4 separate regions of the Homo sapiens genome follow, and regions 1, 2 and 3 are each reported to be linked to region 4. Evidence: microRNA targets listed by miRTarBase, many of them from high-throughput screens and not tested one by one. Region 4 holds a microRNA gene; each other region holds the end of a gene's coding sequence.

The links. The annotated mature microRNA hsa-miR-1273h-3p reads CUGCAGACUCGACCUCCCAGGC and lies in region 4 at 1,165-1,186, shown strand. An mRNA with a match to its seed (bases 2 to 7 or 8) in the 3' UTR can be bound and repressed. Matches are read on the target gene's strand: a 7mer-m8 pairs with bases 2 to 8, a 7mer-A1 pairs with bases 2 to 7 and ends in A, and an 8mer does both.
Region 1: the mRNA of RAB8B is a reported target of hsa-miR-1273h-3p. Seed matches in the 3' UTR shown: 8mer at 1,661-1,668 and 7mer-A1 at 377-383.
Region 2: the mRNA of NFYB is a reported target of hsa-miR-1273h-3p. Seed matches in the 3' UTR shown: 7mer-A1 at 2,583-2,589.
Region 3: the mRNA of TSC22D2 is a reported target of hsa-miR-1273h-3p. Seed matches in the 3' UTR shown: 7mer-m8 at 579-585.

Annotation. Positions count from the first base shown.
Region 1 is chr15:63,263,306-63,267,368 of GRCh38, reverse strand. RAB8B (RAB8B, member RAS oncogene family) reads right to left here. Exons shown (of 8, transcript NM_016530.3): 8 at 1-3,842. The coding sequence ends at 3,750. Among named protein-coding and RNA genes, the nearest start is that of APH1B, 12 kb to the left of the region's middle.
Region 2 is chr12:104,116,090-104,120,152 of GRCh38, forward strand. It overlaps NFYB (nuclear transcription factor Y subunit beta), which reads right to left. Exons shown (of 8, transcript NM_006166.4): 8 at 997-3,680. The coding sequence ends at 3,648. Among named protein-coding and RNA genes, the nearest start is that of NFYB, 20 kb to the right of the region's middle. RefSeq lists an enhancer at 503-672.
Region 3 is chr3:150,458,307-150,462,369 of GRCh38, forward strand. TSC22D2 (TSC22 domain family member 2) reads left to right here. Exons shown (of 3, transcript NM_001303264.2): 3 at 70-4,063. The coding sequence ends at 330. Among named protein-coding and RNA genes, the nearest start is that of TSC22D2, 52 kb to the left of the region's middle.
Region 4 is chr16:24,202,022-24,206,089 of GRCh38, forward strand. MIR1273H (microRNA 1273h) reads left to right here and starts at 1,095; the gene lies at 1,095-1,210. All of the region lies in intron 16 of PRKCB (protein kinase C beta), which reads left to right.

The DNA.
Region 1 (4,063 bases), not on the chromosome of region 4:
GTTCTATTAGTTTCTTGGCACAAGAAATGCAATTGCATATGGCACACGCATTTCAAGAAATGAAGTAAAATCTGAAAATATCCCTAGAATAATTGTTTGCTAATTTTTATTTCTGTACATTTCAGTCATTTAGATTTTTTTCAGAGTGAACATGACAGCCATTAATTTTATTAGTCTAAAAAAATGACTTATTCTACTCTAAAATTGTGCTAGAATTTGAAATTATTTTAGCATATCCTGTCCGTCTAGGTCCCTCTATATCAAGGGATTTCATTTTTAGACATTCCTTTCCACCCACCCCTGTGCCCCCCTTGGATGTAACAAGGAAAAAGGAATGTCTCTTCTGTTTAAAAAAAAAAAATTCTGAGAAACCTGATTGCAGAAATGAGTGCTTAAAATTTATAATAATTAACCAACATAATGAAATGTGGTTTTTAAAGATTGAGAACTAAATTTGTAAAGGAATCTAAGTCATGAACTTGAAAAGAATGTCTGCTTAAATGTGTCACTTACTGATCACAGGAAAAACTTTATAAGCCTTAATATAGACTCTGAGCATTCAGAACCTGTAAAATGGAGTTATAATCTCTTACTAGAAACTTCTGCAAAAACGCACCTATATTGCACAGCTAAATTTATTAATGGAGACAGGGAGATAATACTTTTTTTATGCTACTGGATATGACATGTATGCTCTATCCTAAACTAATATTTCCTACCTTTCCCAATGATGTCTTCAGTTCAAAACAAAACAAAGAGTCTAAATTTTGTTAGATGCTTAAAGGCTGGCTCACTGTTTTTCTACCAGGTATTAGAATACTAGTTAGCTAAATGAGGTATAATTAAAAAATAGACCTTCAAAGTAAAGAGTATAGTCTTCTGAAAATTTATAACAAAGACTGCACAAAATGTTTCTGTAAATAGTAAGAAACCCTGCAGCACCTACTAACTGATGCACAGGTAGATTATTGTATCATAATCTGTCTGAAGTAAAATATAGCTAAAATAAGTTCCCAGCGAAACGTTTTACAATCAACTGATTTACATGCTACTTAGTTACAGCACATTTTCACTGTCTGATACCCTCAGACTCTATTTGAAAAGGTCTAGTCCAATCACTGTCAAAAATTAACACACTGATTAATAAAGTGCAGCCACTGAACCACTAATACTGCTGCAAAAATCTTCATGTACCTTATCCATAAGACCACAAAAATGTTCACAAAAAAACTAGATTTCTTCAGTTTCAGCGGGGAACAGACAATTATCTGTCATTAAATTCATCTACAAATAGAAAAAATAATGCACTGTATGTACATTATTAAGCAAAGTGGAATATTTATTGGGTCATTTTATCATGCAGAAAGTGAATTTCCTAAGGTCTTAGCTCAATGTATATACAATCTAGCAAAGCTAAATGTAAGAAAATAGCAAGGACAATTTATTTCTATATAACAGAGCATATACTCCCAATTTGCTGCTACTTCAAAGAGCACTTTTAGACTCATCTAACTTTTACAGGCTCTTTCAAGTGAAGTTCATGGAGACTAGTTATTAATCCATATAAGACAAAAGAAGAAAGAAGAAATATAACCAAAGCAAAGCATTCTGTTAAAAAAAAAAGTAATAAAAGCTAACCACAGAATATGTCAGTTTTGGTTTGCAGACAACCCCTGAGATTATATAAACCAAAGCGTTAAGACACCAAATAGTCAGAGGTAAATTACTAAGAGAATTACATTCATACATGGTGTCATAGCACTTATCTTTTAGAAGGTACTTTGTTACCATCCAGAAAGCGTTAACTGCTTGGATTTTTTCAGGAAATAGTGAATATTAAGATGTTTCTAAAAAATTATCTTTTCCTTTTGAAAATGTATCTAATTTGAAGATAGTAGAATTACAATAAACTTTCAATCACGGAACTACTAATTATACTAGAACAGCAACGAATGACTTTTAAGCCTATAGGTAATTACCAAAAAAAAAAAAATTAAGGAGGCTGAAATTTGTCAACAATAAGTTTAGTATATCTATTAAAAATAGCTTGGGCATATTTGCAGCTGCTAAATTGTTCCTATATTTTCAAATAAGTACAAAAGATTGACTGGTCCAAGCATTCTAATGACATATCTTAATTTGAAGAGAATTCTCTGTGGTAACAAGCAATCCCTTTCCACTGCCATCTCCTGTTCTTATCTATCCAGCATGATAGTAGCCTTTGTGAAGCAAAACAGGCATACCAGGAAGAATAATTATTAACAGAATTCATTTCCCTCATCCCCTCTGTTTTATCCCCCCTGTGTTATGACACTGAAGGCTAGAGCAACAACGACATAGTGATCTGAATTTGGCACACAAGTTAACACTAAATACCTTGTGATGGTTTCATCTACAAAAGTATACCAGTACCAGTGTTTGTTGAGAAAGGCAACTAAGCTTTTGGTTGGCTTTAGCCCAAATGACTGGACTAAGTTCTGTAACAATGAACCAAAACAGATGGAACTGGGTTCTACACAATCAACAACAGCTGTTTGAAAACTGAAACCTTGGTCCTGTTTTCTCTAATGAAAAGGCAAGACTTTTCCTAGAGGCTGCACTAGGTCTAAGTACTTTTATTTCTAAAAACATCTGCCAAATAAAACCAACCAAAACTCATTATTTTCACCATTACCAAGAGCTAGCTCTATTAAATTTATATCAACAAGTTAATCTGTCTCTATATAGGGAAGGTTTCCGCAAACTAAAATCTAAACCTAACTTTTGTAGACAGGGATTATGGTAGGAATTTGGTATTACAACTAAACCAGCCAGCTAAGGAGTGAACCTAAGAAAAAATATATTACATATCCTTATTGACAGAATCACAGTTAGATGCTGCACTAAAACCCTAAATGGTATATCTCTCAGCCCACGTAAAATTTCAGCTCAAGAAGTTCACAAATAGAAACAGATAATAATGTTCAAATATTACTTAAGAGTGATTACACTTAAGTCAAACATGGGAAAGAATAGCAAATACAAACCCCAGGGAAAAATGAGATTATGGTGATTTCCAAATGCAGTTTCTATAGATTAGGCAGAGGTAATCATTTTAAAGTGATTCATTCAGCTACCCAGACTCTGGAAAACAGGTCGGGGATGAGGCAAAGCTCTTAATCTGAAGAAATAAAGAAATTGTGGCCTTTGATGACAAGATGGGCATTTCAGTAAATTTTTTTAATGACTTTAATGATTCTTATTTAAGAAAAAGCCCTTAAATAAATGCTACCAAGGCAGTAATATTTGACCATATGAACCAGACCAAATACCCTTTAATTTTAGTATATTAACCTCTGCTGTAAATGCTCTTTTAACATTGCCACATGTACAAATTTGTCTAGAACTTCACGACACAAAAGTGTGCAAATATGAGTCTAAGATTGTGCTGAAATAGGGAAAGGCTAACACTGATGTGCAAAGTAAAAAAGAAAGATAACCGCTTCTGCAACAGGTAATAAAACAAGGAAAAAACGAGTTAGGTCCTGCATGTGTCTCCACTTCATTGCTTCCATGTTTGAAAAAGGGAGTCTGTTCTTTTGCTAGGCCATGAGGCTGGAATCCACTTGGCATACTGTGTTGAGAGGTCTAAGTTCAGTGGTGCTCTCAGCAGCAGCCGGGAGGTGTGATTCTGAGGCTGGGTGACCTGTGCTTTCAGAGAAGCAGGAAAGGGCCCTCTAGGTGTGCTGCAGTCTCTCAGAAAGAGTTCATCAAAGTAGCGAGCAACGAAAGAAACTGGTCTTCTTTGATCGGTTTTCTGTTATTTTCACTGGTCCACCTGCTCCTGCTGAATTGCTGTCATTCTAAAAAATAGAAGATGAAGTTACCAAGGAAATAAAAGTTTCATGGTTTGACCTCAGTTACCTAAAAAATAAAAATAACTAACCATACCATGTGAAATGTGTATTCTAGTGAAATGTGTATTCACTAGAGTATTTTATTAGAACGGGAACTAGTTAAGCACCAATGTTGTCTTTTTCTTTGGAAATGGTGAATTGAAAAGAGGAAAATGCCCTTACGATAG
Region 2 (4,063 bases), not on the chromosome of region 4:
TTTAAGGTCATGGCAGGTGGGTGGGGGAGGCAAAGAACTTGGCATAAGGAGCCTAGACGAGATCAGGGGTGACTGGAGCTCCCCAGTCAAGAGAGAGCTAAACTTGGTGAAGTAACATTTCTAGCTCTAAAAGAAAACATAAATTAAAACTGAATATTTTTCAGGCAGTGTAGTATAGTTCCTTAAAAAACAAAGTTAGAGTTCCATTTTTTAACTCACAAGCACATTATATGACTTAATAGGAGTTTAAGGTCAATATATACAAATTATTAACTTATGTAAATTAATTTATCAGCTGCCTAATTCAGGGAAACCAAAAAATACATTTAAAATAGACTAGTAAAATAGATTTCACCCAGTATCACTTTCTTTTGAAGCCCTCTAAGAAGCTGCCTAATTATTACTTATTTGAATGACTTAAAGTGTATTTTATCACATAAAGCAACAAACATCATCTTGTTTATATTGTTGATAAAATAACAATTTTCCTTAAGAGAAAATATTTTTTAAAAATCTTGCATTGCAAGATTTCATTCTTAGCAAATGGGAGAAACTATTCTTTCCACTTTTCATGCCTAATTTCTACTGCTGTAGAAGTCCTTTTAATTGGGCCCTCATAACTATATTCAATTAGAATTATTAAAGTTAATTGGTACTCCTTTAACTCACTAAGACAACCCAGAAAACAGGCAATAAGGCATGTTTTTGAAGAAAGGAAAACACTGCACACATAATACAGTGTAGGAGGGGAAAAAAAATACAAATAGCTTCAAACACTGTCATATCTAAGTATGTGACATTTGGAAGGCAGCATTTAAAAAACAATCCTCATTGGACTCAAGAGGATTTTAAAGCATCTCCGTTAGAGTGAGGTAGTGAGGGGATAGATAGAAGCTATCTAAGATAGAAGCTACCTAAGTCCCCTTCTACTACCTGGAACTCACTCACGGAAACCCATTTCTCTCTTAGATACTCAAGAAAGCAATGTTTACAAAATTATAAAAAACATTTTTATGATAGGTTAACATGGGAGCTTGCATACATAAGAAGTTCCAGAGGAGAAAACATGACATTCAGTTAAATGCAACATGGGCCAAGGAAGACAGAGACCCCAGCTCTGACAAGCATAAATTAGGATATTATGCACCTGACACATTCAGAATGTCCATTTTCTTTCCCATCAGAGTATGAAGTCCAACAATGAAGTCAATACATAAAAAAGGTGACCTGATTTTACCTGGTGTAAAATTTTAGTTAGCACTACTAGCAAATTATGAAGTTTGGAAATTTGTTGTAGTATATACTAATTTAAAATTTACTCAAATTCCTGTTTGTTTGAGACAAGAGTCTTGCTGTGTCACCCAGGCTGGAGTGCAGTGGCGCGATCTCGGCTCACTTTAGGCTCTGCCTCCCAGGTTCAAGGGATAATGCCTCAGCCACCAGGGAGTAAGGGACTACAGGTGTGCACCACCACACCCTGCTAATTTTGTATTTTTTGTAGAGACGGGGGGTTCTCCATGTTGGCCAGGCTGGTCTCAAACTCCTGACCTCAAAGTGATCTGCCTGCCTTGGCCTCCCAAAGTGCTGGAATTATAGGCATGAGACACCCCATACCTGGCCTCAAATTCCTTTTTTATCTTCATTCTCTACTTGAACAAATATTAATCTTTAAAATAATTTTAGAGACAGTATCTGATAATCAAAGACCAAGTGCTTTTATCAGTTATATAGTGACACACTGCTTGGATCAAGTGGAAAATATCTCAAAAATACACTCATAACGAAGTATCAAAAGCCTTAAAATTTTGCATATTTGGTAACCCAGCAATTCAAAGAATTTAAGAAAACAGTCATGGATGTACATGGGATTCAGTGAAGTGCTGTTTATAACTGTGAAAAGATGTAAATAGTCAAAATATCCAATAGAAGATTAAATGAATTATGATTGAGTCATACAGCAGAATAATAAACCAATAAAAATGATGCAGAAGACTATGCATGACCTGGAAAAGATGTTCCCAATATATTGTTAAGTGAAAAAAGCAGGTTACAAAATGGTATGCACAATATGAGCCCATTTTTATAAAAATATACATATTTAGCAAAGTAAAAGGACAAATGATATTTATCAAAATATTAACATTGGTTCTTTCAACATAGTAGGATGACTGTTGATTTTGCTTAACTACTCCCCCATTTTTTCCTATTTGAATTTACTACAATGAAGTTTGTTTTTTAAATGGAGAGTAGGAGATGAGGACATTATTAACCTCTGATTAGCCCACATATACTCCTAAAGGCTCCTTCTGGCAAAGTAAATGTTTCTGTTCAGCCTATATCTGGGAAATTGCTTCTACCTTATAAATTTGAGTGTCCTTCAAAGATGATATTCACTCCAACTTCCTTTTAGGCAAACTATACAATAGCAATTTTTGATATTAAAAACTTAAAAAAGAAATCCCTCAAGTTAATTAACACCAAAAAGAATAGATGAGAAAATACAAATCCTCACTTTTCAAAAAGAAACAATCCAAGTACATACTACTAAATTATACAAAGTTACATTATTTACGTTTAGTTTATTGCAGAGATGAAGACAGCATACTAGAAGTTGGCTTCTATTTCACACCGTTCACAGCACTCACTCTGTTCTCCATTTCATCCACTCACCCATGCAAAAGGTCTGTACACGCAATGATGTCTGATGTTTCTTGGTTTCCATAGTGTAACAGGAAACTTGACATTTCAATTAAAAAGGTAAAATGAAGACATTTACCATCAGACTATAAAACTCCTCTTCTGTAAGAGAATACTATAGTACTTGAAGATATGATTTGAAAAAAAATCATGTACCAAATGAAAGGGGCACCATTTCAAGAGCACTAGGACTACATTAAACTTAAATATATTCCCACATTCTTAAAAATGTAACTCAAAACCAAATCTAGTCTTAAAAAAGCTCCAGTAACTAAAACTACATTAACAGGCACGATGAACAGTGTAAACACTGTTAATGGGCACCAAGTTTAACAGGGCAGACAATATTTGCTTCTGCATTCACACTTATTCAATTACATTTTTTAAAAAAATGATGCTGCTTAAACTATTAATGTTTTACCAAAAAAATAATAATTTTAATAAATACAGCAAATGCTAGAAATCTAGCTAGGTTATCATGCAAGGTATAACCAAGACAAACTCAAATTTATAATAAAGGCAACTTGCATTCAAAATGAACTCTACCCTTATATTTTATTAAAAGGGCAAACATCATGAATTAACCCAGCCGCTTACTTGAATTACAAAAGTAACATGATTCAATATGAAAATAAGAAACTGTCTACAAATCTCTGACAGTAATAAATTGCAATATACAATGCATACAGGAGTCATACAGAGCAACAAACTCTCGTACAAAACAAAAATATTTTAATACCTTTAAAATCCAAATTTTTCTTTAAAATCATTCATGAAAAAGATTCTCAAGTCAGAATTAACACCTCAATTAGTCAAGCATCAGGAAGCTACATTACAGCTATTAATATACAAAGATACATCTTTTCACCAGTCTTTCCTTCTGATGTCTCTGTTCCAGAATCATACAGACTCTCATTTCTCTACACTCCCCATTCCATCATTTCTTCAGATCATGAAAACTGAATTTGCTGAACACCAGAAATCTAAGATTAGAAAATTTAAATTGAGCAGAATTAAAGAAAAGGAGATTAAAAGTACCATATGCATATTATAAAAATTCAGTGAATAAAAAGACAATAACAAGTCTAATTCCCATTTCTTGTGTATCTTTCTAGAAATCTCCTATGCAAATATGAACATATGCTTATTTTTAACTATTAAGAGAACACTATATACTGTTATCTACATTGAGAAAACACAATTTTAATAACCTTCTTTATCAGGTCCTTAATAGCATGTTGAAATTAACTATATCAATAGATATAATAAAAAAAAAATTTTTTTTTTGAGACAGAGTCTCACTCTATTGCCCAGGCTGGAGTGCAGTGGTGTGATCTCAGCTCACTGCAACCTCCACCTCCAGGGT
Region 3 (4,063 bases), not on the chromosome of region 4:
AGGCCAGAACCAGATAGCACCACCTTTATCTTTTCACTCTTTTGACATTCCTAATTTTGTTTTTCACAGGATCTGGTGAAAAGCCATTTGATGTATGCAGTAAGAGAAGAAGTGGAAGTTTTAAAGGAACAAATAAAAGAATTAGTTGAAAGAAACTCTTTACTTGAACGAGAAAATGCACTGTTAAAATCTCTTTCAAGCAATGATCAATTATCCCAACTCCCAACCCAACAGGCCAATCCTGGTAGCACTTCTCAACAGCAAGCAGTGATAGCACAGCCTCCGCAGCCAACGCAACCTCCACAGCAGCCGAATGTCTCCTCAGCATAAAGCTTTCTTAAGCCTCATTAAGAAAAAAACTGAAAGCAATCTATCCTTGTGTGCCACTGGTGTTCTTTCCACTTTATACGAAAGCAAGTAGCCATGCTTTGGTTGTGTGTTTGGCCTTTTCAGTATTAGACAATCATTCTACAAGAGCTTTTCCTCTCTCTGAGATGTCATGCAGCGCTGTTGATGTCCAGTTCTATGTCATCAGTACACAAGGAGAATAATAGATGGGGTTTATTAAAGCGAGCAAAGTCTGCATTTTACCTGGTGCGCATGAGTGGGGTCTTTAAGAGTTTTGGTGGCTCTCCCATGTTTCCTATTACCCATGGATTTACCCTGAGCCTTCCTATCACATTATAAATAACAGTTCATCTAAAGAGCCACTTTTCTTTCTGATTCAGTAACATTTGCCTACATAAGTTTTCATTTATTTGTGTTTTATTTATTACAGGGCTGCTATTTTCATAATGTACATGAACAATGTCACAGAACTTTTTTAATTTTTTTGAATAATTATAAGTATCAGTAAAGGAAGTGAAAGACAGGATTGCATTTAATAGATAAAACGTTTAGGCAATAATTGAACAAAAGAATCCTGGCATATTTCTAACACTAATGGCAATTTACTTATGGTATTTATTTTCAGTAGTAAAGACCCAGCTTGAATGTAAATTTTGTATAGTGTAAGTATGAAGAACATAGTGCAACTGTACAGGTAGTCACCAGTTATTGTGATATGATAAATAATTGGGCTATTTTGATGAAGAAAACTTTGTTCATTTGTTTCTACTTTCTAAGAGAAATTGCCACGATTCCTCTGCTTTTCAACATTTCGTATGACTTTTTTTTCGGGTGGGAATAAAAAGCTGTGAAATTGTTCAACCTACTTTGTAACCAAAGAAGCAAAGCTGTGTAATGGAGTTTGGTTTTTTTTTGTTGTTTTTTTTTTTTTGTCTTTTTTTTTTTTTATAATGCACATTCTTTATGTATTTTTATTTAGTGTTTTCTCAGTCACAATTTTCTTTACTGTCTAGCATGATCTGCATGACCTATAATCTTTGAACCACTTTCGTACCTCATGTTTTTATCCAGCACTCTTATTGTAATATGTACTAGTCTGTGAACAATGTCAAATAAAAGAGAACGAACAGGTAGTTTGGTGGAGCTGAGCTAGTGTACAATACACTAGTTGTAAAAAAAAAAAAAAAAAAAAGTGAGCCATCTTTTGTTCATTTAAAATGGTGTTTTGAATTTCGTATGCAGAAAACGTTTTGTTACATTGCAGATTTTAATGTATTTAATAAATGCAACATGCAGATTAAGTGCAGTGTATACTGAGTATTTAAATTAAAATGTACATTTCATAAATACAGTTTCAAAAGAAAGCATCATTTTGTGTATACTAACACATTAAGTGTATGTCAGAAATTGATGTATAAATATATATTTTAACATTTTCTGAAATTAAACTGCAGTTTTGTTGAAATATTTGGCTCTATATGTGTTCAAAATTTGACTAGATTTGTATTTTCACAGTTCAAAATACTCCTTAAAGACCTGTTAATAATGACTTACTGATAGTTCTTAAATTTTCAAAGTAAAACAATTTAAAGAATGCAAAAATAGTGAGCAATATTTGTACTCAATATTCATATTATGTTAGTGATACTTAAGTAGGAAATCCTTGTCTACCAAAACTTTTACTTGAATTCAGAAAGGTGCCTGTAGAAATTAACATGCACTGCATCTGTAGCCAGCTAGCTAATCAGAGTTAATGAGAACCAGTAGTTAGTTCTCCGTGTTAAAAGACTTATTTGAAGTAAAAATTTAATCAGATTAGCCACAAACAAACAAGGCATAAAATTGGGATGTACATGAGATTGCCAAATATTTTCTATTCTAGTTGTGCTGCAAGACATTGAACAAAATGTTAATGAATAACATTATAAATCAAGGAACTAAGTACATAGGCTTGAGTAAGCAACCCTAAGGATGTGTAGTAAGATTCCAAGTAGAGCTGCTACAGGTGAGATACTTAATGGAATGTGAAACTTCACTGTTGGACTGTTAACCGAAAAGGTTTGCTGGCTGTGCCCCTCCAGTGCTAACTGTGACATGTGATATTTAATACAGGTGGAGAAAAACTAGTCTTAGAAATGGGATTTTTGTGAAAATAGATTCCATTTTGATTCTGGGGCTGGAAAAACACTTCATAAACAAAGTAATAGTCTCCAAGGAAATGAATAATAAGGTTTAAAATGGTAACAGCAGTTATTACTACTTTTATATTAAGAAAAACAGTAGAAAAGGAGAGAAAATATGGGTAGTTCACAGAAGAGATAAATGGCAGTTTCTAAAGGTTCAACCTCTAGTAACCTAAGAAATGCAAATTAATGTTTTTGGCGAATTGTAATAAGTGTCCTAAGTAGCAGGACTTAACATAGAAAGAAAGACAGGCTTTCCTGTGTACTTTTAGAAAGTAATTTGGCAGTATGTATCTAGAGCCTTAAATAATAAGCTTTCCAGTGTAACGACAGGAGAAGATACTCAACTCATGGTCCATTGTTCAAAAATGCAGAATTATTGTGGTGTCTGCCCTCTGCTTTCCCATCATCCCCTCCCCTCAAAATCCAAACTATCCCTACTGTCAACCCTTCCCCCAGCTGATTGTTTAGGATCTTAAGTAACTTCCAATTCAGCTTTGGAGATTTAGTCTCCTGCTCCAAATAGTTGTAAATATTAACTGATTGAGATCCCAATTTGGAGGCACAGTCTTACAGGAATGCCATCTATCTAATTCTGTCAGTGTAATGCCCATAGAGCAAGGTCCCACATAAGCTTTTCTGTTTTAATTTAGCCGGTAAATCATAAGTAGAAATTTTTCTGATACGGTAATTGTCTACAATTCAAACCTAACTTTCCCCAAATAAAATTTAGTTTGTTCCGATGTGATCTCACAGCTTGCCACACCAAAAACAAATAGTAGGGGTTAGGAGGCATTAAATAAACAGTTTCCTTAACTCCTGATTGTCCAAAATAGCTGAATTTTTCCAATTCTATTTATAATATCCTATGCTAATTAGAAGTATTGAGATAACGTTTTATAATCAAGCCTCCAGTGACTGGGGATCACAGCTGCCATTATTCACAAGAATTTTCACAGGTGAATGATTATATTTCTCCAAGTTGCAAACTCCAGTAATTCATGGACCTTTTTTTAAAAAAAAAAAAAGTCTTAATAGAACCAGAATATCTCTGTTCTTGAAAATTTATCTTTGCAGAACCAGAAATAGCTAATTGTCTGGAAACAATTTTTAAGATTTGAAGTCACATTTTTAAAAGAAGCTTTATGGCTCAGTGGCAAGCACTTTGTGACATTTCTTTAATAATCCTATGAAAAGGACAAAACCCAGCCCTCAAAATTGACAATTTGAGGACATAATAAGCCAACTGATAATGCAGTGAGGAATACTTGTTACTATGTACAGTCAGGGATGGTTTTGTCAGGGTAGGTTTCCTCAAAAACATGACACCTGAGTCTTGAAGGTCATAAGAGCCAGAGGGAAGGGTGTTCCAAGCACAAGAAAAGAGAACTCAATGGCTTAAAAGTATAAACAAGGCTCCTAGGGCAGCCACAGAATTGCATTGGAGACAGGCAGGCAGTGACTTCCCCACTGACCTAGTATTTTGGCATCTATTCAGAAAGCAAGAATGATTTATTGAATGGTTTTAAGCA
Region 4 (4,068 bases):
CGAGACTCCGTCTCAAAAAAAAAAAAAAAGAAAAAAAGAAAAATAAAGCCACTGTCACTAGAAGAAAAGACAATGCCTGCTGGCTGGGCAAAAACAGCAGCTGTCCTTTCTGACTCTATCCTGGCCTTCTCCTTTGTGCATAAACCTGCTATGTCTTTTTCATGTTAAAAATCCCCTACCTCAAACCTGGGAATCCTCCTTACTACTACTCTTACTACTGCTATGATTACTACCCTACCTTACTTTGCATACAAACACACTTTTGAAAGAGTTGCCAGTTCCTGCTATTTCCACTTGATGACAATTTATTGTTTCCTCAGTTTGGTGCAATCTGGCTTCTGCTCCCGCCATCCTATTGATATTTTTCTCATTGAGTCATCAATGACCTGAAAACTGCCTCTTCTCATAAGCTTGTCTCATCTTTCTTGACCTCACCATATTATTAGGTGCTCTAATCCTTTCTCCTTTAAAAAAATGTGAAAAAATAAAATATTCAAGCAGCATCAGAAGCTACAAAGTGAAATTAAGATTCCCCTCACCCATGGCTCCTAGCTAGGCTTCCTGGTTCTCCTTCCCAGAGACACCCATTGCAACCAGGTTCTTGTGTGACCTTCTAGAGAAGATGTGTTCAGGCCCAGAAATAGTCTACATCACACACAAGGATGTTAGCATGCTGTGTACAATTTCTGTATCTTGCATTATTCCCCTCTGTCTTGGAGATTGTTTCTTATCTGCTTATCTAACTCTACATCACCCTTTGAATAACTTCCTAGTTTCCTATATAAGTGAGTTTATCTGTAGGAAAAGTTCAGAGTGCCTTCTTTCTTTTTAAGCCCCTCTTCTCCTTCATTTTTATGACATTGTGTGTCTGTCTTAGTCTGTTTTGTGCTGCTATAAGAATACCTGAAACTGGGGCCTGGTGCAGTGGCTCATGCCTGTAATTCCAGCACTTTGGGAGGTTAACATGGGCAGATCACTTGAGCTTGAGCCCAGGAGTTTGAGACCAGCTTGGGGAACATGGCAAAATCTGTCTTTACACACACAAAAATTACAAAAATCAACCAGGTGGGGTGGCACATGCCTGTAGTCCCAGCTACTTGGGTGACTAAGGCAGGATTGCTTGAGCCTGGGAGGTCAAGGCTGCAGTGTCGTGGTCACAGCTTGCTGCAGACTCGACCTCCCAGGCTTAAGCAATCCTCCTGCTCGAGTGACAGAGTGAGACCCTGTCTCAAAAAAAAAAAAGTGGATAACTTACAATGAAAAGAAATTTATTTGGCTCATGGTTCTGGAGGGTGGGAAGTACAAGATCAGGGGCTGTATCTGGGGAGGACCTTCTTGCTGCATAGTAACCTGATAGAAGGCATCACATGGCAAGAGAACACATGAGGGAGGGTAACTTACTTTTTAAATAAATTCACTCCCACAATAATAACATCAATCCAGTCACCTCCAAAAGTTCCCACCTCTCAACACTGTTGCATTGGGGATTAAGTGTCCAGCACAAGAACTTTGGGAGAACACATTCAAACCATATCACCACATTTGCTGATGTTCTTCCTACCTTCACAGCCACTCCCAATAGAAATTCCAACTCCACAAAGACTTCCAGTGACAGTTGAATTTGGAGGGTTGAGACCAGCTCATGACCCAGAAAGGAAAACAGAAAGCTTACTTTTTGTTTTGTTACAAGTGCAGTCTCTTAAAAATAACCACAAAATGCCCCCCCAAATGGCATATGGAAAACAGCACAGAGATGGTGTGTTAATCTACCTGAAATGTCTTTCTAAGGAAGTGAGGCTTGGATGGGAACGGAAATGCATCCCTTTTTCTTCCCAGGGTACACGTCTTTTTCTCACTTCCTCTAACTGGGAGCCCCAGGGCCTGGCTTTGTCTTGTAGCTTCCTGCCGTGATGCACCAGGCTAAGTGGGAAGGTTTCTGTTCTATGTCTAAAGTAGCACTGGCAGGTCCTCATTCTGCTTGTAATTGGGATGGGAATATGGGTAGGAATTTAGGGTTTGGCAGAGCGTACAGGACCTCTTTCAAGCCAGAGCACAGCCCTGTCAGACTTACTCACTGGACATGAATGGGTCAGTCAGCCCTCAGCAGTAACCACCAGCTACCATGTTAAGTATTTGATGTGAATTTTATCAAGTCATTCTCGCCACACCCTACAAGAAACTTGAGCTTAGGGGACTTAGCTAACTTGCTTGAAGGTTGTATAGCTGGGAATTGTTGGAGCCAGGATTGGTACCCAGGTTAGCTTAACTTTTAAGTCCGTGCCACACAATCAGATACATAGTATGAGGCAATGGGATGTAATGGAAAGCCCATGGGCTTTGGAATTGAACAGATGGGCTCTGGATCTTGGCTCTCCTACTTGACCCTATATGACCCTGAACAAACTGTTAACTCTTAAAATTATCTGTTAAGTAGAGATAATCCTTTTCCTGCCTATCTCACAGCCTTGTGGGAATCAAAGCTATAAAAAGATAGGCAAATAGAAGGGATAATTACTATTTGAGGGTGAGTTTACTTGAAGCCAACAATGTGGGTTTAGGATGAATGGTGAAGAATAGATAAGAAAAAAAATGATATTCTGTTGACATGGGAAGATGTTTAGAGTGTATTTCATCTAGTTTCTTTTAAAAAGCAAGCAAAAGAACAGAGTCATGATTCCACCTTTGTCTAAAAACTAAAAAACATCCATTCATCTATTCATCCAGCCATCTAGGATACAAACCAAGATGTTAACATAATACAGAGATTTGGGGTGGCGGGATTAAGAAGGATTCTTTTGTGTGTTTTAAAATTTTTTATGGCCAGGCACAGAGGCTCATGCCTGTAATCCTAGCACTTTGGGAGGCCAAGGCGTGCAGATCACGAGGTCAGGAGTTCGAGACCAGCCTAGCCAACATAGTGAAACCCCGTCTCTACTAAAAATACAAAAATTAGCTGGGCATGGTGATGGGTGCCTGTAGTCCCAGCTACTTGGGAGGCTGAGGCAGGAGAATCGCTTGAACCCGGGAGGTGGAGGTTGCAGTGAGCCGAGATCGTGCCACTGCACACCAGCCTGGGCGACAAAGTGAGACTTCATCTCAAAAAAAAAATTATTATTATAATTCCTTTTTTTTTTTTTTTTTTTTTTAGAGACAGGGTCTTACTCTGTTACCCAGGCTGAAGTGAAGTGGAACAGTCATAGCTCACTGCAGCCTCCAGTTCCTGGGCTCAAGGGATTCCCCGTGCCTCAGCCTCTTGAACAGCTGGGACCACAGGCATGCACCACCATGCCTGGCCAATTTTTAAAAAATTCTTTGTAGAGACAGGTTCTCTCTATGTTGCCCAGGCTGGTCTCAAACTCCTGATCTCAAGTGATCCTTCCACCTGGGCCTCCCAAAGTGCTGGTATTATAGGCATGGCACCACCATGCCTGGCATCTTGGTGCTTTTTAATAGCTTGTTTGTTTCTGCGATAAATGTAGGAGACTGATAGAAGAGTCTGGATCTCTTGTCAAATCTAGGATCAAATCGTGGTCAGATACTTAAACTAAACCCATTTTCTCATTGCACAGCAAGGACTTCATAGAGCTTTTGGGGGGATTAAAGGAGGTAAAGCTTGCAAAACACTTAACACAGTATCTGGCTCATAGTTAGTGCTTAACATACACTATTATTTGTCCATTTGATTTTTTTTCATCCCTGGGTTCTAGAAACGCAGTGGTGAATAAAACAGATGTGATTTTGCTCTCATGTGGCTTACAGTCTAGATGAGAACATAGACAATCAACAGAGAATGAACATGTATTAATAATTATAGACTGAGATATACCAGATTTTATTTCTGTTAAAGAAATGAACAGGATATCTTGACAGAGAATAACAGGAGGGAAGAATGAGAATCCTCTTTATTTGAAGGTGGTCTGGAACAGCTTCTCTGACAGGGTGCCATTTAAACTGAGATCTGGAGGAAATCAAAACACTGGATGTTATTTTTTAATGAAAATTAAGAAAAGCAAGAGCAAAACAAAACAGACTTAGTATCAAACACAAAAGACCCCTCTCCTACTGACT